6 separate regions of the Homo sapiens genome follow, and regions 2, 3, 4, 5 and 6 are each linked to region 1. Evidence: fine-mapped expression QTL. A gene starts in region 1. Each other region holds a variant in brackets. All regions are shown on one strand. Distances are between the middles of the regions.

Region 1 (5,000 bases):
GGGATGAGAGCAATCTACGCAGAGTAAACAAGTGCAGAGCACCCCAAGTTCAAAGGCCAGACAAAGGAGAAAGTGTGACTGGCCAAGGGTCAGAAATCAGGCTTGCACACCTGAAGTCTGGGGAGTCACAGGACCACAAGAGTCAAGACCACCCTGGGCAACATAGGGAGACCCCGTCTCTCTAAAGAAAGAAAAAAAAGCGGTCAGGCGCGGTGGCTGACGCCTGTAATCCCAGCACTTTGGGAGGCCGAGGTGGGTGGATCACTTGAGGTCAGGAGTTTGAGACCAGCCTGGCCAATATGGTGAAACCCCATCTCTACTAAAAATACAAAAATTAGCTGGGCGCAGTGGCTCAATTCCTGTAATCCAAGCACTTTGGGAGGCCAAGGCGGGTGCATCACCCCAGGTCAGGAGTTCGAGACCAGCCTGACCAACACGGTAAAACTCCATCTCTACTAAAAATACAAAAATGAGCTGGGTGTGTGGTGCGCACCTGTAACCCCAGCTACTCAGGAGGCTGAGGCAAGATAATCGCTTGAACCCAGGAGGTTGCAGTGAGCTGAGATCGTGCCACCGCACTCCAGCCTGGACAACAGAGCAAGACTCTGTCTCAAAAAAAAAAAAAAAAACAAAAACAAAAATTAGCCAGGCATGGTGGCATATGCCTGTAATCCCAGCTACTCAGCAGGCTGAGACCAGGAGAATAGCTTGAACCAGTGAGGTAGAGATTGCAGTGGACCGAGATCATGCCACTGCACTCCAGCCTGGGTGACAGAGCTAGACTCCGTTTCAAAAAAAAAAACAAAAAAGAAAAAAGGGGGCTGGGTGCAGTGGCTCACATCTGTAATCCCAGCACTTTGGGAGGCCGAGGCGGGCAGATCACGAGGTCAGGAGATCGAGACCATCCTGGCTAACATGGTGAAACCCCGTCTCTACAAAAATAAAAAAAAATTAGCTGGGCGTGGTGGCGGCGCCTGTAGTCCCAGCTACTCAGGAGGCTGAGGCAGGAGAATGGCGTGAACCCGGGAGGCGGAGCTTGCAGTGAGCCGAGATCGCGCCACTGCTCTCCGGCCTGGGCAACAGAGTGAGACTCCGTCTCAAAAAAAAAAAAAAAGAAAATTGGGAATCTTAGGGACATCTTCATTAACATTCAGTAATACCTGGTAAGTCCCCCAGCCAACACAGCTCACTGCAACATCAGTCATTACAACATTGGATATTTCTGTAGAGGCACTGTTGCTCATGTGTGGCATGATCCTCAACGTCAGGGAAAAAGACCTAGTAAGTGAAGTCACCTGCAAGGTCACCAGCCTCCCCATGCCTCCAAATCTTACCTGGGCCTCTGTCACATAAGAGGATCCAGCCAAGGATCTGCTCAGGGAACTAACTTGTTGCACATCTTCTATCTCACACACATTTTGTGTTCTCTTCTTTACAGAAGAGGAAATTGAGGCCCAGGGAGCTAACTTGTCTAAAGCCATATAAGAGCCAGAATCTGAACAATGGTTTCTCTTCAGTTCCAAGGCCTTGTCCCAGGACATTGCACTAAATAAAAACACAATTACCCACTTCCGTTCCAAGTTCCCCCAAGTAATAAATTTACGTTATTTCTTTTCTTTTTTTTCTTTTCTTTCTCTCTCTTTCTTTCTTTTGAGATAGAGTCTCACTCTGTCACTCAGGCTGGAGTGCAGTGGCGTGATCTCCGCTCACTGCAACCTCCACCTCCCGGGTTCAAGCGATTCTCCTGCCTCAGCCTTCCGAGTAGCTGGGATTATAGGTGTGTGCCACCATGGGCAGCCAGGTTTTTTTGTATTTTTAGTACAGACGGGGTTTCACCATGTTGGCCAGGCTGGTCTCCAACTACTAACCTCAAGTGATCCGCCCACCTCGGCCTCCCAAAATGCTGGGATTACAGGCATGAGCCACCGCGCCCGGCCTACAATGTTATTTCTGCAAGAACCTAAACTGGTGTTTCCAGTCTATTCTCTGGGTAACTGCCCGATTGAAGGCCCGCATCTGTGCTGACCTCAGCTGGACCAAGGGTCACTTAACTCCCGGAATCTCGAAGCCAAGGCACCGGGCCAAGAACTTCACAGTGCAACATTTGTCTCCTAGAACAGGGGGTGGCAGATTGCGGGCAACAGGAAGAGCTCATTCCCCACAGGGATCTGGTGGCACGGGCCAAAAGTGGAGCGACCCTGCGCGCAGCCTTTAGGGGCGCAGGCTTTGAGAACCCGGGTTCTATTCCGGGCTCTGCCATTTAAGTTGCCTCCTTTCTCAGGGCCCCACCACCTTCCTCACCTGTAAAATGGGGGAAACAGTAGCACTTGACTTGCAGCTTTGTTGTGAAGGAGCTAGGATTGTTTAAATCGAAAATGCTCAACGAGAAAAGTGTTCAGTGGAGAGCTACTACTCACATCCCCGATAAGCCTTCGCATTCTTGCCAAAGGCCACGGGCCGCCACCCCATCATACCGAATGTGCCTGGAACTGGGGCGCTGCGGCTGGCCGCCGCCCGATCCCCAGCCCAGGCGCGACCCAAGCGCTCCCCTCCCGTCATTGCGGCTGCAGAGGGTGGGGTACGGCGGGGGACAGCGAGGACGCCGAAGCACCCCCCGGGCTCTGGGACGCCGCGGCCCTCGGACCCGAAGCCGCCCACCTACCGGAACACGGCCCGCGCACGTACCTAGCGACGCCTCCGTCCTACGCCGCCGCCGGTGCCACCAGTCCCAGACCCGCTGACCCAACGCCCCGCGCACCGCCGCGGGCCAGCCACGTGACCAGCCGCTCCAACCCCAAACCCCGAACTTGGCGCTGGACCGCTCGAGCTCAGGAAGGTGCACTCTGCGCGCCAGGCTTGGGCTTGGCCCCGCCCCCGGAGGCGCCCAATCAGAGAGCGCAGCCAAGCATGGGCCGCCACCAAACGCACCCGCGCTATTGGCTGCGGCGCAGCGGCGGGCAGGGCCTGTTTCTCCGGGGCGGGCCGGAGGCCGCGTAGTGCAGCTGCGCACCTGGGGCAGGGACCTGCAGAACTGACCCGCTTTGGCTGCAGGGCTGGTGTGTGGACCAAGATTTCCAGGAAGACTACACAGGGCCTTCCTCACTTAAGCCTGTCGCTTGGGCCGTGGGATTATGAGTGAATTTTGTTCATGGTACTACTTTTAGTTTGCAGGGTGGTCATTTAAAGTAGGACAAATGTGCGTCCAAACTGCAACATTATTACTCTGTAGGTGTATAATCCAAGAGCAGACACTTTATTATTATTATTTTTGTTATTTTTTATTTTTATTTTTTTGAGACAGGGTCTCACTCTGTCCCCCAGGTTGAAGTAGAGATGGGGGTCTAACTATGTTGCCTCCCAGGAGGCGGAGGTTGCAGTGAGTCGAGATCGCGCCACTGCACTCCAGCCTGGGGGACGGAGCGAGACAACGTCTCAAGAAGAATAAAATAAGATAAATAAAATACTGACACACAATAAGGACTCAATGAACATTACCTATTGTTAAGAATGATAAAAACCGGGGCCACATGTCAGGACCACCTGAGGCTGCGTCATAAATTTTTTTATTTGTCAAATGATAACAATAATTATTATAAGAATGATAAAAACCGGGCGCAGTGGCTCACCCCTGTAATTCCAGCACTTTGGGAGGCCGAGGCAGATGGCTTGAGCCTAGGAGTTCAAGACCAGCCTGGGCAAAATGGTGAAACCTTGTCTCTACAAATAATTTTAAAATTAGCTGGGTGTGGTGGCAGTCGCCTGTAGTCCCAGCTACTTGGGGGGCTGAATGGGAGGATCACTTGAGCCTGGGAGGCAGAGGTTGCAGTAAGCAATGATCTTGCCTCTGTACTCCAGCCTGGGCAACAGAGTGAGACCCTCATCATCTCGAAAAACAAACAAACAAAAAATACAAAAAAAACTTTTTTTTTTTTTTGAGACAGAGTCTTGCTCTGTCGCCCAGGCTGGAGTGCAGTGGCGCGATCTCGGCTCACTGCAAGCTCCACCTCCCGGGTTCACGTCATTCTCCTGCTTCAGCCTCCTGAGTAGCTGGGACTACAGGCCTCCGCCACCACGCCTGGCTAATTTTTTTTTATTTTTGAGACGGAGTCTCCCTCTCTTGCCCAGGCTGGAGTGCTGTGGCGCGATCTAGGCCCACTGCGAGCTCTGCCTCCTGGGTTCATGCCATTCTCCTGCCTCAGCCTCCCGAGTAGCTGGGACTACAGGAGCCCACCACCACGCCTGGCTAATTTTTTGTATTTTCAGTAGAGACAGGGTTTCACCATGTTAGCCAGGATGGTCTTGATCTCCTGACCTTGTGATCCACCTGCCTCAGCCTGCCAAAGTGCTAGGATTACAGGCGTGAGCCACCACACCCGGCTAATTTTTGTATGTTTAGTAGAGATAGGGTTTCACCATATTGGCTAGGCTGGTCTTGAACTCCTGATCTCAAGTGATCCATCCTCCTCGGCCTCCCAAAGTGCTGGGATAACAGGCAAGAGCCACTGCGCCTGGCCAACATAGTGAGTGTTTTTGTTTTTTGTTTTTGTTTTATTTATTTATTTATTTGAGATGGAGTCTCGCTCTGTCACCCAGGCTGGAGTGCAGTGATGCGATCTTGGCTCCCTGCAACCTCTGCCTCTCTGGTTCAAGCAATTCTCCTGCATCGGCTTCCCGAGTAGCTGGGACTACAGGCGTGCACCACCATGCCCAGCTAATTGTTCTTTTTGTTTGTTTGTTTGAGACGGAGTCTCGCTCTGTCGCCCAGGCATGAGTGCAGTGGCTCGATCTTCGCTCACTGCAATCTCCACCTCCCAGGTTCACGCCGTTCTCCTGCCTCAGCCTCCCGAGTAGCTGGGACTACAGGCGCCCGCCACCATGTCCGGCTAATTTTTTATATTTTTAGTAGAGACAGGGTTTCACTGTGTTAGCCAGGATGGTCTTGATCTCCTGACCTCTGATCCGCCTGCCTCGGCCTCCCAAAGTGCTGGGATTACAGGCAT
Region 2 (5,161 bases), 850 kb before region 1:
TGTGTTTGTGCACACAGAGGAGAGGGGGGAGCCAGGTGTGTTGGGAACCCTAAGCCTGCAGGGACGACCTGGGTGGGGGGGATTGTTTTGAGTTTGGGCTCATCCTGTGGCCCCAGTGGGGGTGCTCCATGGCCGGTGAGCCTGGGGGCACATAGTCTGGGCCTTAGCAGGCAGAGGGACCAGGCTAGAAGGCAGGTAGGACGTGTCCCTGGGGACTGCCTGGCCTGGACGTGGGGTGGGGGTAGGGTGGGTCCCAGCCAGACCCACAGCCCCCCTTCTAGCTTCTGCTGTCTCCAACCCCCGCTGCTACGGTCCCAACTGCTGAAGGTGGGAGCCAGGAGGCAACATCTTGCGCTTGACATTCACTGTTTACGATTCACTCCTTTGGGATCCTCAGGTCTTGTGGAGAACCTGTAAATTCTAGGCCAGTGGTTTTCAAGTGTTAAACAAAAGCAGTGGAACACTGTCTGCCAAAAAACCTTCTATGGAAGAAAATGGCTAAACTAGAACTGCTGGGGTGGGGGCTGGGTATGAAGCCGAGGGCAGCGCCCGCTGTGCCATCCTTGACCGCAGGTCCTCTGACCCGCCGGGGGAGCACATCTCCATACCTTGTCAGTACCCGTACCTGGCTGAGGCCGACAGCAGTTCTAGGCTTCCCTCATGGCACGGGGCCCCCTCTGTGGGAAGGGGTATCTGCCACATGGGCAGAGGCTATTGGGGCACAGGGAGTTCTGTCAGCTGCGGGTGAGCTGGGCCCTGGCGGCTCTGGCCAACCCCTCCTGCGGGGAAGATGGGTCGGGTGGTCCCAGCCCTGATGTCCCCGCACAAGGGTCCGCAAACTACGGCCTAGGGGCCAAGAACGCCTGTTACATTTTTAAACGGTTAAAAGCAAAAGGATCAAAAAGAATGTTTCATGACACGTGAAAAGAATCTGAAATTTAGGCTTCAGTGTCTGTAAGTGGAGCTGTGCTGGCGCCAAAGACGCGCATCCATTTTCCTGCGTCTGCAGCTGTTTTGTGTGGCAGGACCAGGGCTGAGCAGCTGTGACCTGCCTGCAGCCTTTGAGCCTCCACACTCCAGCCCTCTTTGGAGAAGCTGACCACCCTGTTCTGGGATGTTGTTTCTGTTACCATAGATAAGACGCTTCTGAGAAAGGGAGAACCAGGGCGCCTAGGCCCCCACAAATGACACGTTCTTCCTTTCTCTCTCTCCAGGGGCCCTGGCCCCCGCGTCCTGAGCTGCACCAGCTCCTCTCCGGGAGGTGGCCAGCAGGGCAGAGGGGTGGCAAGCCTGGTACTCACATGATGGCCCAGCCCAGGTAGTTGGCTGTGCTTCCCCAGTACATGGGGTTGTCCAGGATGTTGAAGGGGAACACGGTCACTCTCGCCTCCTTGAGGATCCCGAAGTAATCACCTGTGGATGAGGCAAGGCAGGGTCCCTCGGCTATTCATCAGCCCTGGCCACACCATCACTGAGGGAGGCCCCAGAGCGGGCTGTGGCGAGACCTGCAGGTGAGACAGGGCCCTGCCCTCCAGGAGACTTCAGAGAGTTCAACAATGGGCAGAGTCAGAGGGACCCAACAGGCACGCAGACAGCAGAGGGCGTGGGGCCTAAGGACTAAGGTGCTGAGCACCGCCCCTGCCCCACTGCTCCTCTTCTCGAGCACTCTGACCCAGCCATGCTGGCCTTCCTCTTCTTCCTGGCTCTGCACACGCTGTTCCCTCCCCTGCGATGCCTTTCCCTGCTCTCTGTACAGAGAGCGCCTTTCCTCCTCAGGCCCTTCGCCCTCTGCTCATGGCGCCTCTTTATGCAGACCCTTCCTCTTCCTGTCCTACCTCCCACTCTTCCTCGCTCTGGTGAGTTCCTCTCCCTCTAGGGGCCTCAGCTGGTTGCTAAGGGCTGCTCTGCTCCACACCCCAGGCTGTGTGGCTCTGGCACCAGGGCCTGGCCACAGCACGCCTCCCGTTGCTCTGGGAGGTCAGCTCTGGTATTGTTTTCTCACTCAGCTGCCCAGAGGAGCTAGACCCAGTGGAGAGAGGGTGACTATTGAACAGCCTGTTCCAGACAGGCCAGCCATGCACCCGTCAGCCGCACAGCCACAAGGCGTCCCCCGGCAGAGCTGCTCTGAGCCATAAGGGAGTGGCCGGGGTCACAGTCACAGTGTCTGTCCCAGGCCCACAGAGGACAGTCCCACTGGACACAGAGTAACCGCTCCATAAAGGGTGTGGCTTCGTTCCTCCCAGCCTTCTGTCCCCAGAAACCCCTCATTTGTCTCTCCTCCCAGAGGACAATGGAGCTTCATCCAAGGCGGAAAGTAGGGCAGCTGCCCGACAATGGGCAGCATGGGCAGGAGGGGTCCAGGAGCTTCATCACCATCTGGGGACACGGGGCAGGGCCCAGGACCACTGGAAAGTTCTTTCTTCCCAGGAAGCAGGAAGTGGGGCACAGGGTGTGCGTAGATGGCACAGAAACCCAATTCGAGCTGAGTCACAGCAGGAAGTGACCACCTTTGCCTACATACCGCGCTGCTGGTCCTCGGTGTTTCTAGGCCATGTCTGCTGGCAGGGCCGCCAGGAGGCTGTGGCCACTGGTGTTTGCAGGCTCCTTCCCTCCCTCTGACTGTCCAGGACCCCCAGCTTGTTCTTCCACTGCTGAGGGGCTCCACCCACCATCCTGGCTCTCCTTACGCTGCCTCTGCAGCCCTCCCTGTCCAGATCCACCCGAGCACTGGCCACTGGAGGGCCCCCGCCGCTGGTCTCCCACAGGACCTGATTGCACAGCCCGGAGTCCCCCTTCCCATGGGGCCCTCACCGCCCTCACATCCTGGAAGGGCCCC[T/G]CCACAGCTCCTCCTGAGCCCCACCTCTGATCCTGGCTCCATCGGTCCAACCTCTTCCTTGCTGGGACCCCCCCTATGGCTCCCACCTCTCTGGGGATGGAGCCTCAGCCCCTTGGATGGCCTTCAAGGCCTCGGCTCATCCTCCTGCCCTGTCCCAACCGACAGCACCTGTGCGGCCAGTCCAGCTGCCCCCCACCTCCAGCTGCCAGCTACTCTGCCCTCAACCTCCCTCTCCTTGCACCAAGGCTTTTTTCTCTTTCCTACCTGCCCGCACCTGCCCCCACCTGGCAGATCCAGACGCTCCTGGCTGCTGTCCCCCTTCCTGGACCAAACTCCCTACAGCGTCTGCCTGAGCAGGAAGCACTGAACTGCCTGTGGGTGCCCCCCACAGTCCCAGAGAGGCCTGGCCATGGGCGATCCAGAATGCTGCACCCACAGATGCCACTTCCTCCCTCGGGGGGACCCCTACTGGCAGGCACAAGCTCCTTGAGAACTTGGAGTGCCCTGTGACAGCCCACGGTGCCCTGGGGGCTGGGCCCAAGGAGCTGTAGCCGGCATCTGAGGATGGGGATGGCAGGCAGGCCCGGGAGCTCCTCAGGACACCGTTGGTCCCAGGAGGCTACTGAGGCCACTGAAGCCGAGTGACTTCCAAGCTCCTGCACTGGCCAGGGCTGATGGGGAGGAAGACGTGGGCCTTCCCACCCATGACGGAGAGCGGGCAATGCGGCCAGCTGGACCAACTCCCTGCTCACTGGGAGGGGCTCCCCTTGGACAGGGACTGCCTCCTTCTCTCCTTCCAGGTTCCGAAGGCCCCCTCTTGTCCCCCACCCCTGCCCCCATCTCCCCTCCCACCCCGACCCCTACTGCCTTTCCCATGGCTGCTTTTCTTTCCCAGATTCCAAGGAGCTGGAAGTTGCTGCCATCATCAGGGTCATTGGTGGGCGTCTAGCCAGGCCAGCACTGGGCTCACAGCCTGAAAGCACCTCAGCCACAGGCAGAGGGAAATGGAGAAGGGATAAGGTGCCTCCACCCCTCACCCCTCCCCAGACCTACACCAGCCCTGCCTGCGGCCAAACACGGCACAAACCACAATCCTGCCTGGCCTGAGAGCCACGCGTGCCGGGAGCTGCCAGAGAGGTGGCTGACTCACCACCACCTCAGGCTTCTGTGCAACAAGGCCTGAGAGTCTTCTGCAAGGGGGAGCTGGTGCTGGAGCTGGACTCAAGGAGTCCTGCACCCAGCCCGGGCCGCAGAACGGGCATTGAGTGCATCTTCATTAGCTGGAGAGAAGCAGCAGGAGCTGCCTTCACTCCCCAGGAGGCAGCCGCTCAGCACGCTGGGGTAAGAGGAGCTGTTGGAGCCCAGCCTCCTGTTCTAACCACAGACAAGCCAGGCCTGGAGGAGCAAAGACGCCCCGATGGAGGGGGCCCCTAGCACTCCCACCGATGTCACGGATAGCAGGGCAGCAGCCACCTGGCCCTGCACCTCCCTGGGGCTCCAGCGGTCCTGCTCAGGGTCACCCCAGCCCTCAGGGTCTTACCTAGGAAAGTTCCAGCGAACCCCAGTGCAAAGAAGCTGGAGAGCACGAGCACGACGCCCAGTCCCAGGAGCGCGAGGCCCAGGCTGTAGGCCGCGGGGGTGTCCAGGCTCTCCATCCTGGGCTGGCTCAGCATGGCCTGCGTGAAGCTGTGGGCAGGGGATGGAGAGGGAGGACGTCATGGCCAGGGAGGATGTCACAGCCCGGGAGGAGGCCGACCTCATCTTCTCGCCCTCTCCCCAGGGACCCTTAGAGAGTAGCCAGCCCAGGGCTGCCAGGCCAGGCAGGCAGCAGGTGGGGTCCAGTCCACCTGGGAGGTGGGTGACAGTAACAGGGAGGGGCCCAGGCCTGTCAGATTTTTAAATTTTTTCAAGAGAAGCCAGAAATCCTGACTCGTATGTGAAATATCCTAATTTTTAGAAATAGACAATTCATGAAAGCCACTTTAGACCCTGCATGTGAGCAGGCTGGATTCAGCCCGAAGGCCACCAGCTTGCAAACTCTCATCCTGTCCAATGAGCAACTCATACTATGGAGGAAAGTGAGGCTCAGGAAAGACGCAGGTGCCAGGTTGCAGGGCAGGCCCAGGTGTCCCATTCCCCAACAGACTCAGTGCCCCGAGGCCTGGGGCATGCTCTGTGCTAGGGATTGCGCTTCCACAGCCCCTGTGGGTCTGGCCACATCCTGGGTGGCTTGACTTGCATTTAAAGGCACTTTGGGGGCCCTTAATGTCCTCCTCCACACCTGAATTCCCCCACTAGGCTCCCTTTGGGGCCAAACCACTGAAG
Region 3 (5,161 bases), 130 kb before region 1:
GCACCTCTGTGAGCCTTGCTTCACCTGTTTGTTGCTGGAGCCTCCATGCAGTGGGGCCCACATGAGCCTGTGTGCATTGAGGGGCACAGGGGCTTGGCAAAGGGCGGGCCTCTGTGGACTATGCACGCGGTACAGTCATGGTGGAGGCTAGGGGTTTAGCCACCTCCCCACCAACTGGAGGCATGATAACCCATTTCACAGTTGAGGACGCTGAGGCACAGAGCAAGTAGACCTGCCTCCTACCCCCAGTGTGTCAGCTGCAGACCCTGGAGGCTGCCTTGGGGTGGGCCTCAGGGTGGGCCATGGCAGAGGTGCCTGGGAGTGCTTACCCCCAGCAGCCCTCCCCTCCTTGCAGACTGTGGAGCATGGCTTCCCCAATCAGCCCAGCGCCCTGGCCTTCGACCCGGAACTTCGCATCATGGCCATCGGCACCAGGTCTGGGGCTGTCAAGATGTATCCTTTGCAGGACAGGTGTTCAGGGTCTGTTCAGGACCACCTGCCTGTAGTTCCCTGTGCTCTGGGGTCCCAGTCTTGGCAGTGTCCAGCTCGAGAGGAGGACAGAGGTGCTCTGATGGGCAGTAGTGGGGGCTTCTGCGGAGGTTGGCGTGGCTTCTGTACCTGAGACAACTGTGCAGAGATGATGGGGTCCTTTTGCTGAGAGACGGGTGGTGGGGGGTCAGTTTGCAGTAGCACAGCTGTCCCTTGCTACGTGTCAGCCAGCCAGTTACCTAGGCGACCCTGCCATCGTCCCAGCAACTCTGGGGAGGCCAGGCAGAAGGCTGGGCTATGATACCCATGGAGGGTGGCAGGTGGGCTGGGGGCCCTGGTGAGCTGATGCACACATGTGTGAATGTGAAGACACATGTGTTCAGCAAAGGGGCCTGGGGGCAGTGCCAGGCTCGGCATGGTGAGCACAGCACGGCCCCCACCTGGATACTGGCTGCTGCACAATGGGCTGTGTGAGCCACACAAAGCGGGCATTTTCCCTGCAGGCCTGGGGTGGGGGTGGGGGCAGGCCGGCAGCTCAGTGTCTCCTTGCCAGCCCTGGAGAATCCCACCCCAACTGCTCTTGGGGAAGCCGAGGTGCCAGGGTCTGGCTGATGGCGGCTTGGTGAGGGGTGCTGACCCCTACCCCTCCTGTGTGGCCTTCTGGGTTTCAGTATCCTGGTTTCAGACATCAGTTCCCAGAAAATGTGTCAGTGCTGGGAAAGGGGAGGGTGTGGGATGGGGGTCTCCTCACCCCAGGACTGGGGGCACTGATCAGGCAGGGATGGGACTCTGAGCCTGTGGTTTGTGAGCTCTTTGCCTACTCTGGGGAGTGTGGATGGGCTGAGATGTCCCCTTCTCTCCCATGGCCCCAGCGGCCTCTGTTGGTGAGTGTGGCAGTGCTCTGGGCCCCACATGCTCCGCTGCCTGGCCTGCTGCTCCCACTCCTGTGGGTGCTGCGCTGCGTGCGCACATGTGTCCCTGCAGCCTTCAGGTGTCCCTCCTGTGTTGGGGTCTCCAGTGCACTTGTCCTCAGGCTCAAAAAGAACCTGAAGTGCAGATGAGGAGACTGAGCCTCAGAAAGGAGGCTGGAGCCCGGGGTCCTCTTCCCTTTTTCCCCTGACTGCCACTGCCTGGAGCCCCTTGGGTTGGGAAACTGAGGCTGGAGAGGGCCAGCCCTGGTCACTAGAAGCTGCCCCTCCCCCTGCCAGGCCAGCCCCATCTCCTTGACGACCCTGGTTCCCGCCCAGCTGCTCCTGTCCCCTCTTTTGTCCCTTCTTCGGAGTTTCTCGCCAGGCTCCTGTAGGGAATCTGAGCTCAAGCTCCAGGCAACGGCTCCTGTGTTGTCACCGGGGCAACGTTGCTGACTCCTCCCTGCACCCTCTGTCATGGGGCCCCCTCAGGCCCTGCTGTCCACCATCAGCCCTGGAGTTGCCGGGACTCAGGCACTGACACTGGGCACTTCAAGCAGGTCATCCACCCCCTCCAAGTCTGTGTGCTCATCTGTGAAATGGGCAGGCTGGAGTCTCTCCTCCCTCATGATGGCAGTTGTTGGCTGCCTGCTTTGGAGGGAGGTGGGTTTTTTTTGTTTTGTTTTGTTTTTTTGAGATGGAGTCTTGCTCTTTGTTGCCCAGGCTGGAGTGCAGTCGCACAGTTTTGGCTCACTGCAACCTTTGCCTCCCGGGTTCAAGCAGTTCTCTGCCTCAGCCTCCCAAATAGCTGGGATTACAGGTGCCTGCCAGCATGCCCGGCTAATTTTTGC[G/A]TTTTTAGTAGAGACGAGGTTTCACCATCTTGGCCAGGCTGGTCCTCAACTCCTGACCTTGTGATCTACCTGCCTCGGCCTCCCAAAGTGCTGGGATTACAGGAGCGAGCCACCGTGCCCAGAGGAGGTGGGTTTTCTTACCCATGGCTGAAGTTTGGCCTGAAGCTGTGGGAAAAGGCAGCCTGGACTCTTCTGCCCCCTGGCTTTCTTGTCCAGGCCTGGCCTTGCACCTCTGGCCTGCCTGATCCCATCCGGCAAGGCGCAGCTCCCAGAACCCATAGACACACGGAGCTGAAGTGGAGCGGAGCCCCATCCTCTCACCAGGCTGAGGCCAAGCCTGCTGGGTGTGTTTATTCTCACTTGATCTGCAACAGTCCTGTAAAGTGGGAGTCACTGGCCCAATTTACGGGAAGTGAAGGTCCTATAGCAGCACCTGACTTGCAGGAGTGAGTGGAGCCTGCACACTGATCTTGGGGATACTGTAGGGGTGCAGAGTGGGAGCTTTAGGGAGGGGGCCTCCGTTCTTCAGGGAGGACTCCTGGATGGTCAGGCCCATGCCGGGGCCCACTGGAATAGTCCGGGTCAAGGAGGAGCCTTGGGTGTCTTCCTCACTGTGGTTTGCTGGTCTATGCCTATTTCCACCTTGACCTGCCACCCTCAGCTATGGTGCACCTGGCGTGGAGTTCACAGGCCTGCACCGGGATGCAGCCACTGTCACACAGATGCACTTCTTGACCGGCCAGGTGAGCCTCTGCTTCCCACTAGCCAGCTCCCTGTGGCCCCCATATCTACTCATCCCCCTAGGCCAGCCTAGTTTTCATCTCTGCTCACACACCAGGGCCGCCTCCTGTCCCTGCTTGATGACAGCAGTCTGCATCTCTGGGAGATTGTCCACCATAATGGCTGTGCCCACCTGGAAGAAGCACTCAGTTTCCAGCTGCCCAGCCGGCCCGGCTTTGATGGTGCCAGGTACTGGAGAACTTGGCTGGGGCCAGCCACCGGGCAGGGAGGATCTGGGGGAGGCTGTGGGAACCTGCTGTGCAAAGGCAGCATGGAGATGGGCAGCGGTTCAGGGCGGGATGCCTTGAGCTGGGCCTGGGTCCCAGGCTGCAGCTGTTGGACCCTGCTTTACTGAGGTATACTCTGAACTTTTCAGGTTAAATGGGAGGTTTGGGTTGAGTCCGACGTGAGCAGGTAATTAACATTGTGAGCAGCAGGAGGTACATGCATTATATGCCAAACTTCTAGGACCTGAGGCCTGGCACTACACTTACTGCAATGATGGGGGTGTCTAGGGGTTTGGGGCAGGGCCTAAGCCAGTTAGTAACAGGAAGGGTCCCCTGGCCTCTTCAGTTGTGGGTGGGAGACAGGCCTTTCTGTGCATAGGCAGGGTTGAGGGCAAGGAGGGTCCCATGGGCTGTGCTTGGTAAGGCGCTGGCAGCATGCCCCAGCTGAGTGAGAGTGTGGGGCATCTCTCTCCCCAGCCCTGCCTGAAATAGCTGGAAAAGGGGAGTACCAACCCAGGGATGGATTCCTGATGCCTCCCAGCTTCTGCAGATGGGGGTATCTGGGGCCCTCCTGCGAAGTCAGGAGATGTCTGAGCGCTGGCAGCGGGATTCCTAGGAGGGGCTCAGCGGGGAGCTCCTGGTCCTGGCTTGGGCAGTGCCCTGGTTCCTGCTGTCCTCTCCTGGTGGGTGGGAGGAGCTGGGAGCCCAGTCTGCAAGACCTAGGGACCCTATTTTTATCCATCTCCCTGCTGACATCCTGATGAATAATTGAGCGGGCTGATGATGATGCATGTCTTCCTGGGGTGGCTCTGTAAGTAGGCCCTGGTGAGTGCTGTGGGGCCAGTGATGAGTTATCAGCAGTGGCCCAGCCCCTCACACCCCACCTGAGCAGGTGGATGGGCTTGTACCCTCACTCCCTTCCCCTTGTTCCCTGCAGTGCTCCGCTCAGCCTTACCCGAGTCACAGTGGTCCTGCTGGTGGCTGCCAGCGACATAGCAGCCCTGGGCACTGAGGGCAGCAGTGTCTTCTTCCTGGATGTTACCACCCTGACCCTGCTCGAGGGGCAGACGCTTGCCCCAGGCGAGGTTCTGCGCAGGTAAGAGGCCGGTGGGCTTCCCAGCACCCACTGTGTGCCCGGGAAGTTCTGCTGGCTCACCTGCCTTCCTCCACAGCGTGCCAGACGACTACCGCTGTGGGAAGGCACTGGGCCCCGTGGAGTCACTCCAGGGACACCTGCGGGACCCCACAAAGATTCTCATTGGCTACAGCCGGGGCCTGCTGGTCATCTGGAACCAGGCCTCGCAGTGTGTGGACCACATCTTCCTGGGGAACCAGGTATGTAGGTGAGGCCTGTGTCCCCTCAGCCTGGGCCCCTTGTGCATGCCCACCATGGCTCATGCCTGCCTGCCTGCCTGCCCCTGCCTGCCCGCAGCAGCTGGAGAGCCTATGCTGGGGGCGTGATAGCAGCACTGTGGTCAGCTCACACAGCGATGGCAGCTATGCTGTCTGGTCTGTGGATGCCGGCAGCTTCCCAACGCTGCAGCCCACGGTAGCCACCACACCTTACGGTGAGTGCTGGGGACACCTTAGCCAGAGGGTGGTGATGGGAGGGGGCACCACTGAGCCAAGCCAAACTGGCTGAGGAGGGACTTCCCCGAGGGGGTGGTCTGGGGGCAGTGTGTCTCCCGCCGACTTCCCGGGGAGGCAGGAGGCAGCTGTAAGGTAGAGAGCAGTGGAGGGCAGAGCAGGAATGGCAGAATTGCTAAGAACCACCAGTGAGTCTGGTCTGACGCTGTCCCACCCCTCAGGCCCCTTTCCCTGCAAGGCCATTAACAAGATTCTGTGGCGGAACTGTGAATCTGGGTAGGTCGAGGGAGTGGGTGTCCGATGTGAGTTGGGTCTGGCT
Region 4 (5,161 bases), 64 kb after region 1:
GTTGGGAAGGGTGATCAGGCCTTCAGCTGAGTGTGTCCTGGAGTCTCCATGCTTAGTCACACGTTGCAGCTTTTTGCTCCCCGAAAATGGTGAAGTCCATCTATAGTCTAACGACAGTCTCTCCTGCTTTAATTGGGTCTATTTGTTGGGTCCTCTGGGACATGGAAAAACCACTTGCTCAGCTTCTCCTTGTAAATTCCTGGTGAGTGCCTCCAGGCCTACTGCTGTGCTGTTTCTTTTTCTTCTTCCTGCTGCACTGAACCCCTGCCCTTTCATTCTTGGGCCTGTGCTAATTTCTGTGCATTCCCAACTGTGATTTTTCACCAATTTAGGGGAACCTCCTCTGCCAGGGCCTGCTTCTCCCCAGCAGTGCTTGCAGGGGCCTGGGCTGGCTGGCATCCCTGGGTCGATGGGTGCTCCTCTCCCTGCAGGCTGGCCACTCAGTACTCCTTGTCCCTGGCCTCGCAGCCCACCTGGGAAGGTAAGAAGCTGCCCTGTCCTGCTGTGTGGACCCCAAGGCGGCGGAGAGGCTGAGGACCCTTCTGTGTGGGAGACTGGGGGGACCACAGACTCGGGCAGGTGGGGGGAAGAGCTCCTGCCTGATGTTCCCTGTGCCTCCCTCCTCCATCGCCTGCAGCCACAGTGACCAGCCACCAGGTGTGCCATCGTGGAGGAAGTCCAGGTTGGAGAGGTGGTCTTCTGTAAGCAGGTCCATCTCTCCACCCACTGAGGCCCCTTTCTGCCTGTGACAGCCCCACCTCGAGGGTCATGGCACAGCCATCAGCTGCAGCTCCCAGCATGCTACTGCCACGCCCCGAGTGTCCGTCTGGGCACTGGTCCATGACCTGTTGTCTTTCTGTATCTACTTTCTGCAGCCCCTCACTGAGGAGGCCTCCTGGGTTTGTCCAGTGCCTGCTATTAAAGCTTTGCTCCAAGTTCAATGCCTCGTGTGATCTGGTCTGTTCATTGGTTTGGGGCAGTGTGGGCTGAGGGACTGGGATAGGTGGAGAGTTTATTGAGTGTTTGGGTATTGGCTTGTCACCTGCCAATCTGTTCTGCCCACTCCATCCAGGCCTGGGGCTCCTAGAAGACCAGAGGGGAGGAGGAGGAAGGATTAAGGGTGGAGGGAAGGGACAGCCCCTTGTATTGGGAAAAGTTTCTAAGAATCAGCCCCTGAGTCCCTGTCACCTGTGGCTGGTCCCTGGGAGGGCCACACATACTTTCCAAGGACCACACCTGTTGGGGAGCACTCCCTGCCTCAGCCCAGGGTGGGTTCAAGAGCAGAAGGAGAGGGGCTCGGTGGGGAGGGGCTTCTGAAGGAGTGGTCCAGGGCACTGATGAGTGAGGGGGTGAGAGCGAGGCAGCTAGCCCAGGAAAGCAGACCGGCTCTGCCCAGCTCGGGGTGTGTGTGGGGCAGGGTGGCCGCTGTGCGTGTACGCATGGGGGGTGTCCTGTTTGCTTTGGTGGCTTGGCAGCCACTGGGCTATTGAGGAATCTCTCTCCGCTGCTGGTGGGGCTACCTGGGCCTGTCTGGGAAGTGGAAGCCATTGGCAGTCTGAAACATGACCACCTTCCACCCAGCGGGCCTGGCAGGACCCTGGGACCCAGGGCGGGGCTTGGGGTGGTGGGCAGGGCAGGGTGGGGCTGTGGAGTGGGGCACTTGGCCCGCCCGAGGAGCCACATCTTGGGGAGCCTGGAGTGGGGAGGGGGCTGGCTGGCTGGGGTCTCTGTAAGAGCCTCTTCTTGGGCAATGTCCTTTAGGTTTCCTGTGGGCTGAGACCTGAGAGAAATGCCCCTCCCCTGACCCTGAGGTCTCTTGGGGTACAGAAGGGTGAGAGGAGTGGAAGGGGGCATCCCCCTCTCAGTTGGTTTAGATCCTCTCTTAGCACGGCCCACCTTTCCCCCATCCTATAGCTGAGCCCCTGTTTGCCCACCCCAGCCTGGAGTGTAAACCTGGGGAAAGGTTTACACGAGGAGACTGGGTTAGCAAGGGCTTCTAGGGATGGGGCAGGGTCAGAAGCTGACTGGATGGAACTGTAGCCCCTAGAGTGCATTCCTGGGTGTCAGACTCTGCAGAAGGGGCCAGTGTGGACACTGCACCCCTCTGGAGCCCCAATTTCTTTATCTGCGATGTGGGTTGGTCTCCGAGGCTTGATGGCATTTCTATGCTGTGAGGTGGGCCTGGTGGGTTTGGGCTCAGTTTCCAAGGCAGGATAGGCTCTCGGTCCCTTCTTTCTCTTCAGCACCCAGCCCCGGGCCAGCACCTTGGGTGGAGCAGTGTGGGGTGAAAGACAGCAACTTCAGGGGGTGGTCACCTGACATTGCAACCCATTTCCCCACCAGACAGGGTTGAGGTGGGCCGGGCTGGGGTGGTGGCTGCCTGGGAGGGCCTGGGGACGGTGAAGTCCTGTATTCTCCTCTTCTCCCATATTAGGTCATGGGAAAGCATAGCTGGAGGGCCCGCCCAAATCACAGGTGACGGGCCTCAGAGCAGTGGCACGCACACGCGTGGCACCCAGCACGAGGATTTGGAGAAATGAGGCAAATTCCTGATGATGGGTGGGGAGGGGGTCCCCAGCCACCTGGGAGCTGGCAGGTGGCCCGTGGTGATGAAAGCCCAGGGGAAGGGAAACAGAGGAGCCTGTTGTAATCGCTACGCCCACTTGGTGGCCTATAAAGGAAGCCTGTGAACCCCGGCAGCCCTACACTACTTGGGGCCCCTCTTCTTTCCAGCCCTTCTCCTGTGTGCCTGCCTCCTGCCGCCGCCACCATGACCACCTCCATCCGCCAGTTCACCTCCTCCAGCTCCATCAAGGGCTCCTCTGGCCTGGGGGGCGGCTCGTCCCGCACCTCCTGCCAGCTGTCTGGCGGCCTGGGTGCCGGCTCCTGCAGGCCGGGATCTGCTGGTGGCCTGGGCAGCGCCCTCGGGGGTAGCAGCTACTCCAGCTGCTACAGCTTTGGCTCTGGCGGTGGCTATGGCAGCAGCAGCTTTGAGGGCGTTGATGGGCTGCTGGTCGGAGGTGAGAAGGCCACCATGCAGAACCTCAATGACCGCCTGGCCTCCTACC[T/C]GGACAAGGTGCGTGCCCTGGAGGAGGCCGACACTGAGCTGGAGGTAAAGATCCGTGACTGGTACCAGAGGCAGGCCCCGGGGCCCGCCCGTGACTACAGCCAGTACTACAGGATAATCGAGGAGCTGCAGAACAAGGTAGGGCCTGCTGGTGGGAGGGGTCTCCGGGGGGCATGACTTTTTCCCCCCAACTCCTGCCCTGGCCAAAGGCCTGGAGTCCAGCCATAGGGTCTCAGGGAGCCAAGGGTGGTTTGGCTGTGGCTTAGCTTCTGGGAACCTGCCTTGGGGCCCCTGTGTGGCCCACATCCCCCTTTTCTGGGGGCAGTAGGCTGAGTCAGGAACAAACAGGCCTCGTGGAGCCCCTTGGAGACTCAGTTTCTCCCTCGTGGAGCTCCTCCACCTGGAGAGGTTGTAGGATGAGGCAGGAGGATGCAGATGGAGGGCTGGGCCCATGGGCCACTGGATGCGTGGTGTCTTGCTCCTTTGGAGCAGGGGTCAGCAGGAAGGGGTTTTGGGAGGTGTGGAGTGGGGGTGTCTGAGTGAGCTCCCGATAGCACCTGCTGCGGGTGGGAGGCAGAAAGGAGGGGGTGGGACCTCAGGGTGGGGAAGGCCTCTGATGTGCCTTATTTGGGGATTTTTCTGGCTTCTCCTTTCCTCCTGCTGTCCCTTAAGACAGGCTCAGCAAACCGCAGGGGGCGGGGCTGCTGGCTGGAGCCCAGGGTTAGGGATTAGGAAGGGTCCTGACTTCTGATTTGGGACCACTCTTTGGTGAGGGCTCCTTTAGCCTCCTTTTGGGGGAGCCTGTCAGGGGCACCCTCTAGCTGACTGTAAAACGAGGGGGTTGCCCACATCCCCTCCCTTGTTCTAGAATTCTGGGACAGTTTCTGCCCTGGGGACATTTTCCCTTTCTTTTCTGGTTGCCTCATACTCCCAGCCAGCTGTCTCTTCTCCTTTAAGGCTGAGCCTGGCATGGGGGTCTGGTGGGGTACTGAGTAGCGGGGGAAGAAGAGGCACCTTTGAGCCCTTCAGACTCCTGCTTGCCCCTCCTCTGCCAATAATACAGCACGGGGCAAGGGAGGGGCTGGGCGGGAAGAGAGGCCCCCAGGCAGGAAGATCTGTTCAGAACTCTGGTGTGGGCTCAGCCACCCCCATCCGATGACCTGACTACTCTCCCATCTCCGCTGATCCTCACAGCCACCGTGGACAATGCCAACATCCTGCTACAGAATGACAATGCCCATCTGGCTGCTGCTGACTTCCGCACCAAGTGAGTCCTAGCTGTGGGCTTGGGCAGCCTGGGTCAGCTGGGGGAGGATCTCAGGGTACCCCTCCTGACCCCAGGACTCCTTGGTTGCTTGTGGCAAGGCCCAGGAGCTCAGGGTGGGGCAATCCTAGGAGCCCCACTACTTAGTCCAGGATGCAGTGAAGGCAGCCAGTTCTGAAGGTTGCTGGGCTTAGGCAGGGAATAGAAGAGAGGGAGGGGAGGCAGGAGGCAGAGAGAAGTAAGGAAGCTGGTGGGCGTAGGATCTGGCCCTGTGATGGTCCCAAGGCCCCGGGGCTGGAATTCGTTTCCACTCGACCCTCTCATCAGCCCTTCCAACCCCTTAGAGTCCTGGCAAAATGAAGGCAGGTGAGCAGCCAGGACCTGGACCTGCAATTCCAAGCAGCCTGGGCTGAAGTCCCTGATTCCCATGGCAGGTTTGAGACAGAGCAGGCCCTGTGCCTGAGTGTGGAGGCCGACATCAATGGCCCGTGCAGGGTGCTGGATGAGCTGACCCTGGCCAGAGCCGACCCGGAGATGCACATTGAGAACCTCAAGGAGGAGCTGGCCTACCTGAAGAAGAACCACGAGGTGAGGTGGCTGGGGCAGAAGGTCAAAGATGCTGAGGAGTGGGTGGCAGAGCCCTGGGGCTGGGCCATGGCTGAGGCCGTGCGAGAGAGCACAGCAGGCGCACTGGGATTAGTCACCTTAGAGGGCTTCCCTGTCTGCGGAGCCCTGATCCTTGGGGTCCAGCGTGCAGGGCAGACTCCTCTTTGTACCACACTGCTTCTCTGTACCCAAGGAACCTCCCAGGGGCCCGCAGAGGCTCCCTC
Region 5 (5,161 bases), 62 kb before region 1:
CTCCATCTCAAAAAATAAAAAATAAAAAATAACAGGCCAAGCAGTGGTTGGGTGTGGTGGCTTATGCCTGTAATCCCAGTACTTTGGGAGGCTGGGGCTGGAGAATCACTTGAGGCCAGAAGCTTGAGACTAGCCTAGTCAACATAGTGAGATTCCATCTCTACCAAAAAATTTTAAAAATAATTAGCTGGTCATAGTGGTACATGACTATAGTCCCAGCTACTTGGGAGGCTGAGGTGGGAAGATCTCTTGAGCCCAGAAGTTTGAGTCTACAAAAACAAAATAAACAAAAAAACAAACAGTGAGGCTAAGCAGGACCGTGTCTTTCTCCAGTGTTTTCTTGTGTGGCCTGGTGATGGGTGATATTTTCTTCCACCAAGCCACAGTCTAGGCGGTAGAACCACAGCCTCAAAACAGTAAGTGTTCCCCGAGTGCCTGAAACAGCCTGTCTGGAACATACCACAGTGTCCAAGGCTTGAGGCCGCCACTTGCTCTTGGGCTTAGATCTGACCTCTACCACAGTTGCCATGGGATCCTAGAAAGCCAGGAAAGAAAAGACCATGTTAACCTGTTAGTGCATCATCTCCATCCTTCCTATGGATAGCCCATGCCAATCCTTCTAGATCACACTGACCACCGCCAGCTAAGCCCGCAGTGACAGCCTAGAAGAGTGCCCCACTTAATGTCGCTTGTAGCTGACAGTATGGTAGACACCATCACTACTTTCCCACTCAAACCAAGATTGTGAAGGGCAATTTCACAAGCCTTAAGGTGCTTCCACCAGAGCCTATGAAATCCAACAGCCTATGCATCACCTGAGTACAGTTTTCTATGTACACGTGCACAGTGCTCTTTCTGTTGTTGTTTTCTTTAAAATACAGAGATGGGGTCTTGCTATGTTGCCCAGGCTGGCCCAGAAGTCCTGGGCTCAAGCAATACTCCCATAAGCCACCATGCTTGGCCCAGTGCTCCTTTAAAAAAAAAATTCAGGATAATACAGTTAGAAATAGGAGAAATTGCTGGGCACAGTGGCTCACGCCTGTAATCCCACCACTTTGGGAGGCCGAGGCGGGCGGATTACAAGGTCGAGAGCTAGACCATCCTGGCCAACATGGTGAAAATCCATCTCTACTAAAAATACAAAAATTAGCTGGGCGTGGTGGTGCACGCCTGTAGTTCCAGCTACTGGGGAGGCTGAGGCAGGAGAATCGCTTGAACCCGGGAGGTAGAGGTTGCAGTGAGCTGAGATCGTGCCATTGCACTCCAGCCTGGCAAATGAGCTAGACTTTGTCTCGGGGGAGAAAAAAAAAAGAAATAGGAGAAATTGTACAAGTTGGAGACCTTTAATCTTAAAACCAGCTTCATAGTTTACATCACCCACCACGTAGTCCCGCACCACATCCGAGTGAAGGAGAAACAGGGCAGGTCTTTTTATTACTTACTTTTATATTTTATTATTATTTGATTTTTTTTTTGAGGCAGTATCTCGTTCTGTCACTCAGGCTGAAGTGCAGTGGCATAATCATGGCTCACTGCAGCCTCAATCTGCTGGGCTCAAGCGATTCTCCCACCTCAGCCTCCCAAGTAGATGGAACTATATGCAGGTACCACCACGCCCAGCTAATTTTTCTTTTTTAGAAAGATGGGGTTTCACTATGAAACCCAGGCTGGTGGTCTTTTTATTTAACAAATAATTGTACAGTGTCACAGAGACTCCCAGTGGTCCAGGGTCAAAGGGTGGAGTGAGAGAGAGATGGAGAAGGCAGCATGGTCTGCAGAAGGGGCAGGGACACACTAGGACTCTGCCATGTACAGCTCTCACGTGTCTGTGGGTTAAGTCTCTTCACTTTCTTTAGCTTCCTCATCTGGAAAATGTGGATGCTATCACTGCCTTCAGAGGCATTATTAGGATTAAACAAAACAACACATAACGAAGTGTACCTGGTCCATAGCGGGTGCTGCACAGTTATCACATCCCTTTGCCTAATTAGTAACAAATCTGCCAGTGGGCTACAGCCAAGAAGCACACCATGAATTAAGCCTAGAGAGCTCGGAATTTTACTTAAGCATGACTCTGTGCAGCCCCTGGGTTAAACCAGGCTGTTATGTGCTAATAGGAAGTGGCATCAGAAAGTAAACAATCAGCCCAAGGGCCAGGAAACATTAGGGTGGGTCCCAACTCTGCCACCAACTGGCCTATGACCCGGGCCAGTCTTGCTCCCTTCTATGACACATG[C/T]GTGTCCCACCCACCCCGCCAGCCCTTTCCCTAATCTCTCCAGCCTCTGCTCAAGTGTTACCCCTCCCCTCACTGTCCCTCCGGCCTTTCTCTATCCCTTTACCTTGCTTTATTTTCTTCCTAGCTTTTATCACTATATAAAATTAGCCCACTAATTTGTGACTTTCACTTCTCTAGATGTCCTCATGTGACCAATAAAGAGGGGGCTGAGCCAAATGCTGTTCATTCTCTCCTAGCTCTATAAGTCAATGACCTGGACTGGTCTAGATAATCCTTGCTAATTTCTGGTGATAGTATATGCCCCAAGAGGGGATTTCAACTATACGTTTCCCAAAATTTCTGATTTTATCTAAAAATAATGTAGATACTTCCCTTTTCCTTTTAGTGCTGTTCTCATGGGGTTCGTCTTATTGGTTCCCAAAAAGTGATCCCCTGAGATGCAAACTTAAAGCTAAAGTCCAATGGGAGAATGAGACAGATCACCTCTGCCGACAGTGGGAGTGGTTTGGGAGGTGTGCAGAATGTTTCCTAGATCATTAGGGGTTCTTACCTCCACACACAACTGATAGAGAACTAGGCAAGCCGTGTGGTTAAAGAGTCGATGCCTTTTCCAGTTGAATTCTACGATACCATCTTTGTGGTCATGAGTTACTATATTAAGGAGAGACAAACAGAAAGGCTGTGTCTCAGAGACATGTCATGATATGACAGATAGAAAAAGGTTTATTGTGGTGAAAGTCAAACGAATATCAAATAGGGAGGAGTTTCTGGATAACAAAGGGAACTTTAAGTGGATTGTAATGGGCCAGGGAGGATGACAGCAAGACTAAAATAAATCACATCTTTATTAGTGCTATTAATGCTCACAGTCCCCCTCCTTAACCTTGAGCCCATAGGTCCCAGGCCATAACACCCACTCCAGGCCCTACCTTTAATTCTGTGGAAGATTTCTGGTACAAAAGCCTGAATGGCTTTGAACCGCTCCACCACAAAGCCCAGTGTGGGGAACTGGCAGCTGCCGTAACTGATGAGCTGCTCTGCCAGCACCTCAGGAAAAATCCTCTGAAGCCGCAGGGTCTGGAACCTAGTAAAGGCAGCTCCTGGAGAGTGAAGGAGAGTGAAGGAAGGTGAAAATGATGGATAATGAGAGTCCAGGGCTGGCTGCACATATCGACACAGAGCCCATTTTTGGTCCCATAACACAACATTAATGTGGCCATGGGAGAGGTCTGCCTAGCTCCTCACCAATCCTCAGGTCCAGCTCCTGCCTCACATCCACAGCATCGCTCACCCTCTGATCAGGCTCGGTCAGGTTTTCACAAGCTGTCCTGACGGCATGGGGTGTGATCTCAGAGAATCGGGCTCGCAACACCTGCAGATTGGGCTTTACTGCAGAACACAAGGTGTTACCAAGGTCAAAGTCAAATCACACTGCCCTCCATCATAAAGGACTCACTTTTCTTAAAGCCCCTTGAAATAAAGGCAAACCAGTTCAAGAAGCTGTGAGATGACCAATTTACCTATTAGGTTAAATCAATGGTGTACAGTGTCTAAAGAGGAAACATCACCATAACCTTTAAACTGAGTGTACTGTCAGAAATAGTGATGGAGTTAATTTTAGCTAGTAACTGTGGGGAAAAGAGAGATCAGATCGTTACTGTGTCTAGTAGAAAAAGGAAGACATAAAGAAACTCCATTTTGATCTGTACTAAGAAAAATTGTTCTGCTTTGAGATGCTGTTAATAATCTGTGACTTGTCCCAACCCTGTGCTCACAAAAACATGTGCTGTATTGACTCAAGGTTTAAAGGATTTAGGCCTGTGCAGGATGTGCTTTGTTAAAAATGTGTTTGCAGGCAGTACGCTTTGTGAAAGTCATCGCCATTCTCCACTCTCTATTAACCAGAGACACAATGCACTGTGGAAGGCCGCAGGGACCCCTGCCCAAGAAAGCCTGGGTATTGTCAAGGTTTCCCCCGACTGAGACAGCCTGAGATATGGCCTCGTGGGAAGGGAAAGACTTACAGCCCCCCAGCCCGACACTCGTAAAGGGTCAGTGCTGAGGAGGATTAGTGAAAGAGTAAGGCCTCTATGCGGTTGAGATAAGAAGGCATCTGTCTCCTGCACGTCTCTGGGAATGGAATGACTCGGTGTACAACCGACCATATATTCTATTCTGAGATAGGAGAAAACCACCTTATGGCTGGAGGCGAGACATCACGGCGGCAATACTGCTCTGTTACTCTTTACTGCACTGAGATGTTTATGTAAAGGTAAACATAAATCTAGCCTACGTGCACATCCAGGCACAGCACCTTCCCTTAAACTTATTTATGACACAGTCTTTTGTTTGTTTTCCTGCTGACCCTCTCCCCACCAACACCCTATAGTCACACTGCATTCCCCTCCCTGAGATAGTAAAGATAGTGATTGATAAATACTGAGGAACTGAGACCAGCACTGGTGTAGGTCTTCACTTGCTGAGCGCCGGTCCCCTGGGCCCACTTTTCTTCCCCTTTACTTTGTGTGTGTCTTCTTTCTTTTCTCAGTCTCTCGTCTCCACCTTGTGAGAAATACCCACAGGTGTGGAGGGGCAGGCCCCCTCCAATAACTAAAATACTAAAATGCTCTTGGTGAACATTTTTTTTTTGGAGACAGTCTCACTCTGTCACCCAGGCTGGAGTGCAGTGGTGCAATCTCGGCTCACTGCAACCTCTGCTTCCTGGGTTCAAGCAATTCTCCTGCCTTGGTCTCCTGAGTAGCTGGGACTACAGGCGCCCGCCACCACACCTGGCTAATTTTTGTATTTTTAGTAGAGACAGGGTTTCACCATGTTGACCAGGCTGGTCTTGAACACCTGACCTCAGGAGATCCACCTGCCTCAGCCTCCCAAAGTGCTGGGATTACAGGCATGAGCCACCGTGCC
Region 6 (5,161 bases), 80 kb before region 1:
ACAAACTGGACACACACTGCTGTCCCTGCTGGCCTCCAGCACCGAGTCAGGAAGCCACACAGCTGAGCGACACTCTGGGAAACCCATGCAGCTGAGGTAGAACCTGGGGACAAAGTGCCATGTCAGATGATAGGAGTGCAGGAGATGCTCTCCGCTGTTGGCCATCAGCTAAGGCAGCCTTTCCTCAGCTGCCCGAGGACAACATTCCCTTTTCTGGATGACACTTAACTGGATACACAAGCACTCATATTGAATTGATTGGGAAAAATGAGCCTTCTCACATCCCAAAAGCACAAAGCAGCTATTGCTGGCCCTGCTTTCTATTTAGAAAACCAACAACCAACCAAGCTGACGCCAGGGGCTCTGTGCTGTGCACTCACACATTCTTGCCTTTCTGCCTCGTGCCAAGTCTGGGCAGTGTCAGGGGCCCCCTCAGTTTGCATGTGAGTAAACAGTGGCTTGGTGTGGCCTGGAAACCTGCCCAGAGACATGCATGCATGTGTGGATGGGAGCCAGGAATGGAAACCCATCTGTTTGTGACAAAGCCTCACCTGCAACATCTACACCCCACCCACTGCCCATCCATCCCATCCCGGTCTCTCCTGGCCAATGTTTTTCAACACCTTGCAGTCATGAAACGTTAGGGTTTGACTAGCTAATATGCATGTGATTTACAAATTCCTCATGAGTGTGCCTGGGTACACTATGAAGGAAAAAAAAGCCCCGAACTCCAATCATTTAAATAAGAAATTTACAATCTCAGAAATGGAAATTAACAGATAAATCATGGAGTGGCAAATCCCACAAGATAATCTCCTGACCTTCTGGAGTAACTCAGAGAAGCATTACAAAAGAATAACAGAAGAACAAACGAATAACTAAAGAATAATAATAATTCTCCAATTCAGAGAATTGGAGAATTCAGAGCTAAAACAAAAGTAGTTATTCTCTCTCCTTATATTCCAATGAGTACTAATCCAATAACCTACCGATAGCAAGGAAAACCCATCGACAGCATTTATTAAGTGCTGAAATATACGCCCAGTCATTGGGCTAAGCCTAGAGTGGCACTGGCTTCTGTCTGTGAGTGACGCGAGCCCTGACACCTGCTTCCAGGTCTGGCCCATAGACCTCTTGTTTCTGAGAGCCTGGGTGGCCTTCTCTTCACTTGGGCCAGCCAGGTTAATGATGGCTGGAGGTGAGGAGTTGAGAAACCTCCTTTCTTATTCAGCAGCAAGGAGCACAGCAGTCCCAGGTGGGCCAGGCAGGATGGAAAAAGGCAGTGAAAACCCGGTTTCAAACTCTGCTGCCCACCACGGCTGCTTGACTCCAAGCAAGCACCTCAGCCCTCTAAGCTGCATAAAAATCCCTGCCTTGCAGGGTAGTTAGGAGAATGGGATGAGGTAATGCTTACAGAGCACCACCCTGCATTACACCAGTGAGGGACGGCACCTGATGAATGATGGCTGCCACCCCTCCACCTCGTCTTTCCCCGTGAACTTCCTCCAGTGGCCAGCCACTGGCTCCAACAACCTGATGTGAAGCTAAATTGCCCACTCAGATCTACTATATTTAAAGCGAAAAGGGAGTTGAGATTTTCAGGCCCCATTCAGAACTAAAACTAGGAGAGAACAAAAGTAGTATCTGCTGAGTATCTACAACACATCAGGCAATGTGCTATATAGTCCTGACCATTTTCACCAAATCCTCACCCTTAACACAGCCTTGTAAGTACTGACATTTTATAAAAGAAGAAATTGGGGTTCAGAGCAGGTAAGTAACTTGCTTCAGGCCACACCACTTATATGCGGCATAAGTGGCATTTGAACCCAGACCCACCTAGATCTGAAGCTCATGCTCCTCCATGTGTTACACATTGGGTATATGATGTCCTATCCACAGGGGACAAAAAAACCCCACTATCATTCAGTTTCTCACCTGCTCTGAATTCCCATAGTGCTTTACACCTCAAAGGCCTGATCCCACCCTGCTATGCTTTTAGGCCAACACCTTGCCTGCAGGTTGGCAACAACAGGCCTGTCTTGAAAGATTCCATGGAGTGAAATGGCAGGGTCTTTCGAGCTACGGCTGACACCGCAGGTGCTGGGGAGCAGAGGTGGGGGCAGAAGGCAGCGCACTCACCCGCCATTCTTCTTGGTCTTAAGGACCATGTCCTTGTTGCACTGTGGGCACTTCCTGATGGGCTCTGGCATGGCTGGGTAGATATCTTCTTGCTGGGCCAACTCTGTCCCATTCCCAAAGTACTGGGCCAAGGCCTCGTCCAATCTGAAGAAAAGGCAAAGACAGACACCCATCAGCCAGCAATCGCTGCAAAGGCACCTACAACACTCTTACATGCACACAACAGGCGTGACCTTGAGAACCAGCTGGTCAGT[G/A]AGCCGCAGGCCTCCTGCAGAGAACAGACGGCAGACAGAAGACTGAGCTCACCATGGGCCCTGGTGCCGAACCAACTCTTGGGAGGAGAGTCCAGATACAGGCAGATGCTTCTGCTTGTCACCAGCCCACATTAAAAAGTAAAACTGGGCCAAATGTGGTGGCTCACGCCTGTAATCCCAGGCCGAGGCGGGCGGATCACCTGAGGTTGTAATTTCGAGACCAGCCTGACCAACATGGTGAAACCCCGTCTCTACTAAAAATACAAAATTAGCCAGGCATGGTGGCGCATGCCTGTAATCCAAGCTACTCAGGAGGCTGAGGCAGGAGAATCGCTTGAACCCAGGAGGCAGAGGTTGTGGTGAGCCAAGATCACGCCATTGCACCCTAGCCTGGGCAACAAGAGCGAAACTCCATCTCAAAAAAAAAAAGTAAAACTGCACAGGGTCCATGTACAAACTCCAGGAGTGTCTGTCTGTATTAAGTCTAAACTAGCTCATGCCTGCCTTTTCACAACTGGCATGGGGTACTCTAAAGAACAGAAAATAACAAACTGTTATCTTCTATTACAGTCTCACAACACACATCAGACACCAGATGTATGGGAGTTTTCCCCATACACCAAGCAACTCTCCCGCCACACACCAGTTGGACATCCTCTAATTCAATTCAATTCTGACACTATGCACCTGGAGATCCATCTAACGGTTAAGGGCTCAGTCCCAGAAGACTGCTGCCCCAAATTCCCTCAGATGTCAGTCACAAATCCCAGGCTGTGACCTGTGCTTCTGACTGACTGGCTATAAACTGGGGTTCCTCAGACCCCCTCCTTGGTTTGATTCTCAATAGAGTGGCTCACAGAGCTCAGGGAAACACTTTACTTATGCTTACCCGTTAATTACAAAGGATCCAGGTGAATACCCAGATGGAAGCAATGCACAGGGCAAGGGATGTGGGGAAGGGGTAGCTTCCATGCCCTCTCCCAAACACCCACCCTCCAGGAGTCTTTACCTGTTTAGCTATTTGGATGTGCCCCAAACCCAATTGTTTGATTTGTTTTTGTTGTTGTTGAAGAAGTCTCACTCTGTTGCCCAAGCTGGACTGCAGTGGGGCAATCTCGGCTCATTGCAACCTCCACCTTCCGGGTTCAAGCAGTTCTCCTGCCTCAGCCTCCCAGGTAGCTGGGACTACAGGTACGCACCACCATGCCTGGCTAATTTTTGTATTTTTTTTTTTTTTTTTTAGCAGAGAAAGGGGTTTCACTGTGTTGGCCAGGCTGGTCTTGAACTCCTGACCTTGTGATCTACCCGCCTCGGCCTCCCAAAGTGCTGGGATTACAGGCGTGAGCCACCGTGCCTGACCCTTGTTTGGGGATTTTATGGAGGATTTATTACTTAGGCATGATTGACAAATCACTGGCCACGTGTGATCAACTCAACCTCCAGCCCCTCTGCTCTTCCTGAGGTAGGGGTGGGACTCAAAGTCCCAACCTTCTAATCACAGGGTTGGTTCCCTGACAACCAGACCGATCCCAAGGCTACCCAGGAGCCCTTGGCCACTAGTCATCTCATTTGTATACAACAGACACAGCACTTAAAAAATTCCAAGGGTATCAGAAAATGAAGTCCAAATATATATATCTTATTATAAATCATAATATCACAGGTAGAAAACACATCATTTCTAACAAAATACACACATGCTGCTTGCTAAATATCCACCTCTAAATGCTCCAGAAAACAAATGGATCACACTCCAGCACTTGGGTTTACTGATTTAAAAGACTTTGTTGCCTAACTCAAGATAATTAATGTGTCATGTAATTAAAGCAGAAAAAAAAAAGATAATTAAAATCAAGAGAATGGTATTTCTAAAGCCAATAGTTCAGAATAACTGAAGGAGACTGTTCCGATTACTGTTTCTATACTGACAAAGCTCTATGGAGAGTTGTAAAAGAACCCAGAGAAGAAAGTCCAAAGAAAAGGGGTATGTGGAAAACCTCCAGGCCAGGAGGCCACTGGTGAGGATGAATCTGGCAGGGTTATAAACTCTGACTGGCCCAGATGCGGTGGCTCACGCCTGTAATCCCCACACTTTGGGAGGCTGAGGTGGGAAGATCTCTTGAGGCCAGGAGTTCAAGACCAGCCTGGGCAACATAGTGAGACCCCTCTGTATTTCTTTTAAGGACTTACTTCTTTGCTTTAGCCACCGCTTCAATGAAAACCTGCTTGTATTTCTGCACTTGCTGCCTTAGAACCACAAATTTGTCCTTTTTGCCATCACAGATCAGCTTCAGATCAGCTTCCAGTTCAGCCCGGAGGTCAGGCTTAGACATTTCATAGCCCATGGAATCATAACCTGCAGGGAGAGAGTCGAGCTCAGTGAGGGCCCACCTGAGACCCTCAGGGACTTGGGCGACACCACCCACTACCCACTGCAAGCTCTGTCCTCCCTTACCTTCCACAAGTCCCATGCCCAGGTGCCCAGGGAGGAACCGCTTGTCTGGGGTGAGGCCCACGTACATCCGGGCTTTGATGGTCTCGATGTGCTCCGCATGAGTGGCATCCGTACCTGGAAGCCACTTGCTGGTTACTCTGAGGTAATACAGACAACAGCTCCACCCGGGTGGCGCATGGGCACCTTGCTCACCCCGGAATCCCTCCTTTGCCTGGACAGCCTATGCAGGTAAGATGCCTTCATTTCATTCCCATATAGCTCATTCAAGAAATCACAATGGCAACCTCAACTCTCTTGTTCCCTCACATCC

What was found. PIP is the estimated chance that this variant, and not a neighbour inherited with it, causes the effect.
Region 2: its variant is fine-mapped to the expression of SHMT1 in cerebellum (GTEx, PIP 0.92).
Region 3: its variant is fine-mapped to the expression of SHMT1 in lung (TOPMed, PIP above 0.99).
Region 4: its variant is fine-mapped to the expression of SHMT1 in whole blood (INTERVAL, PIP above 0.99).
Region 5: its variant is fine-mapped to the expression of SHMT1 in subcutaneous fat (GTEx, PIP 0.95).
Region 6: its variant is fine-mapped to the expression of SHMT1 in whole blood (INTERVAL, PIP above 0.99).

Annotation. Positions count from the first base shown.
Region 1 is chr17:18,360,687-18,365,686 of GRCh38, forward strand. It overlaps SHMT1 (serine hydroxymethyltransferase 1), which reads right to left and starts at 2,864. Exons shown (of 12, transcript NM_004169.5): 1 at 2,686-2,864. RefSeq lists a silencer at 2,489-2,958.
Region 2 is chr17:17,508,133-17,513,293 of GRCh38, forward strand. PEMT (phosphatidylethanolamine N-methyltransferase) reads right to left here. Exons shown (of 7, transcript NM_148172.3): 4 at 4,377-4,522; 5 at 1,302-1,413. Among named protein-coding and RNA genes, the nearest start is that of RASD1, 14 kb to the left of the region's middle. RefSeq lists an enhancer at 4,597-5,161. The variant T/G (reference allele first, on the strand shown) is at 2,837.
Region 3 is chr17:18,229,586-18,234,746 of GRCh38, forward strand. It overlaps LLGL1 (LLGL scribble cell polarity complex component 1), which reads left to right. Exons shown (of 23, transcript NM_004140.4): 2 at 356-453; 3 at 2,910-2,991; 4 at 3,087-3,217; 5 at 4,193-4,351; 6 at 4,428-4,590; 7 at 4,688-4,823; 8 at 5,064-5,118. Among named protein-coding and RNA genes, the nearest start is that of LLGL1, 6.5 kb to the left of the region's middle. RefSeq lists enhancers at 934-1,769, 1,770-2,603. The variant G/A (reference allele first, on the strand shown) is at 2,249.
Region 4 is chr17:18,424,157-18,429,317 of GRCh38, forward strand. It overlaps the pseudogene KRT17P5 and the pseudogene KRT17P2. Among named protein-coding and RNA genes, the nearest start is that of LINC02076, 16 kb to the left of the region's middle. The variant T/C (reference allele first, on the strand shown) is at 3,069.
Region 5 is chr17:18,299,099-18,304,259 of GRCh38, forward strand. It overlaps TOP3A (DNA topoisomerase III alpha), which reads right to left. Exons shown (of 19, transcript NM_004618.5): 6 at 3,482-3,625; 7 at 3,166-3,336; 8 at 2,787-2,887; 9 at 461-535. Among named protein-coding and RNA genes, the nearest start is that of TOP3A, 13 kb to the right of the region's middle. The variant C/T (reference allele first, on the strand shown) is at 2,237.
Region 6 is chr17:18,280,556-18,285,716 of GRCh38, forward strand. It overlaps TOP3A (DNA topoisomerase III alpha), which reads right to left. Exons shown (of 19, transcript NM_004618.5): 14 at 4,852-4,965; 15 at 4,587-4,752; 16 at 2,143-2,286; 17 at 1-103. Among named protein-coding and RNA genes, the nearest start is that of MIEF2, 22 kb to the left of the region's middle. The variant G/A (reference allele first, on the strand shown) is at 2,397.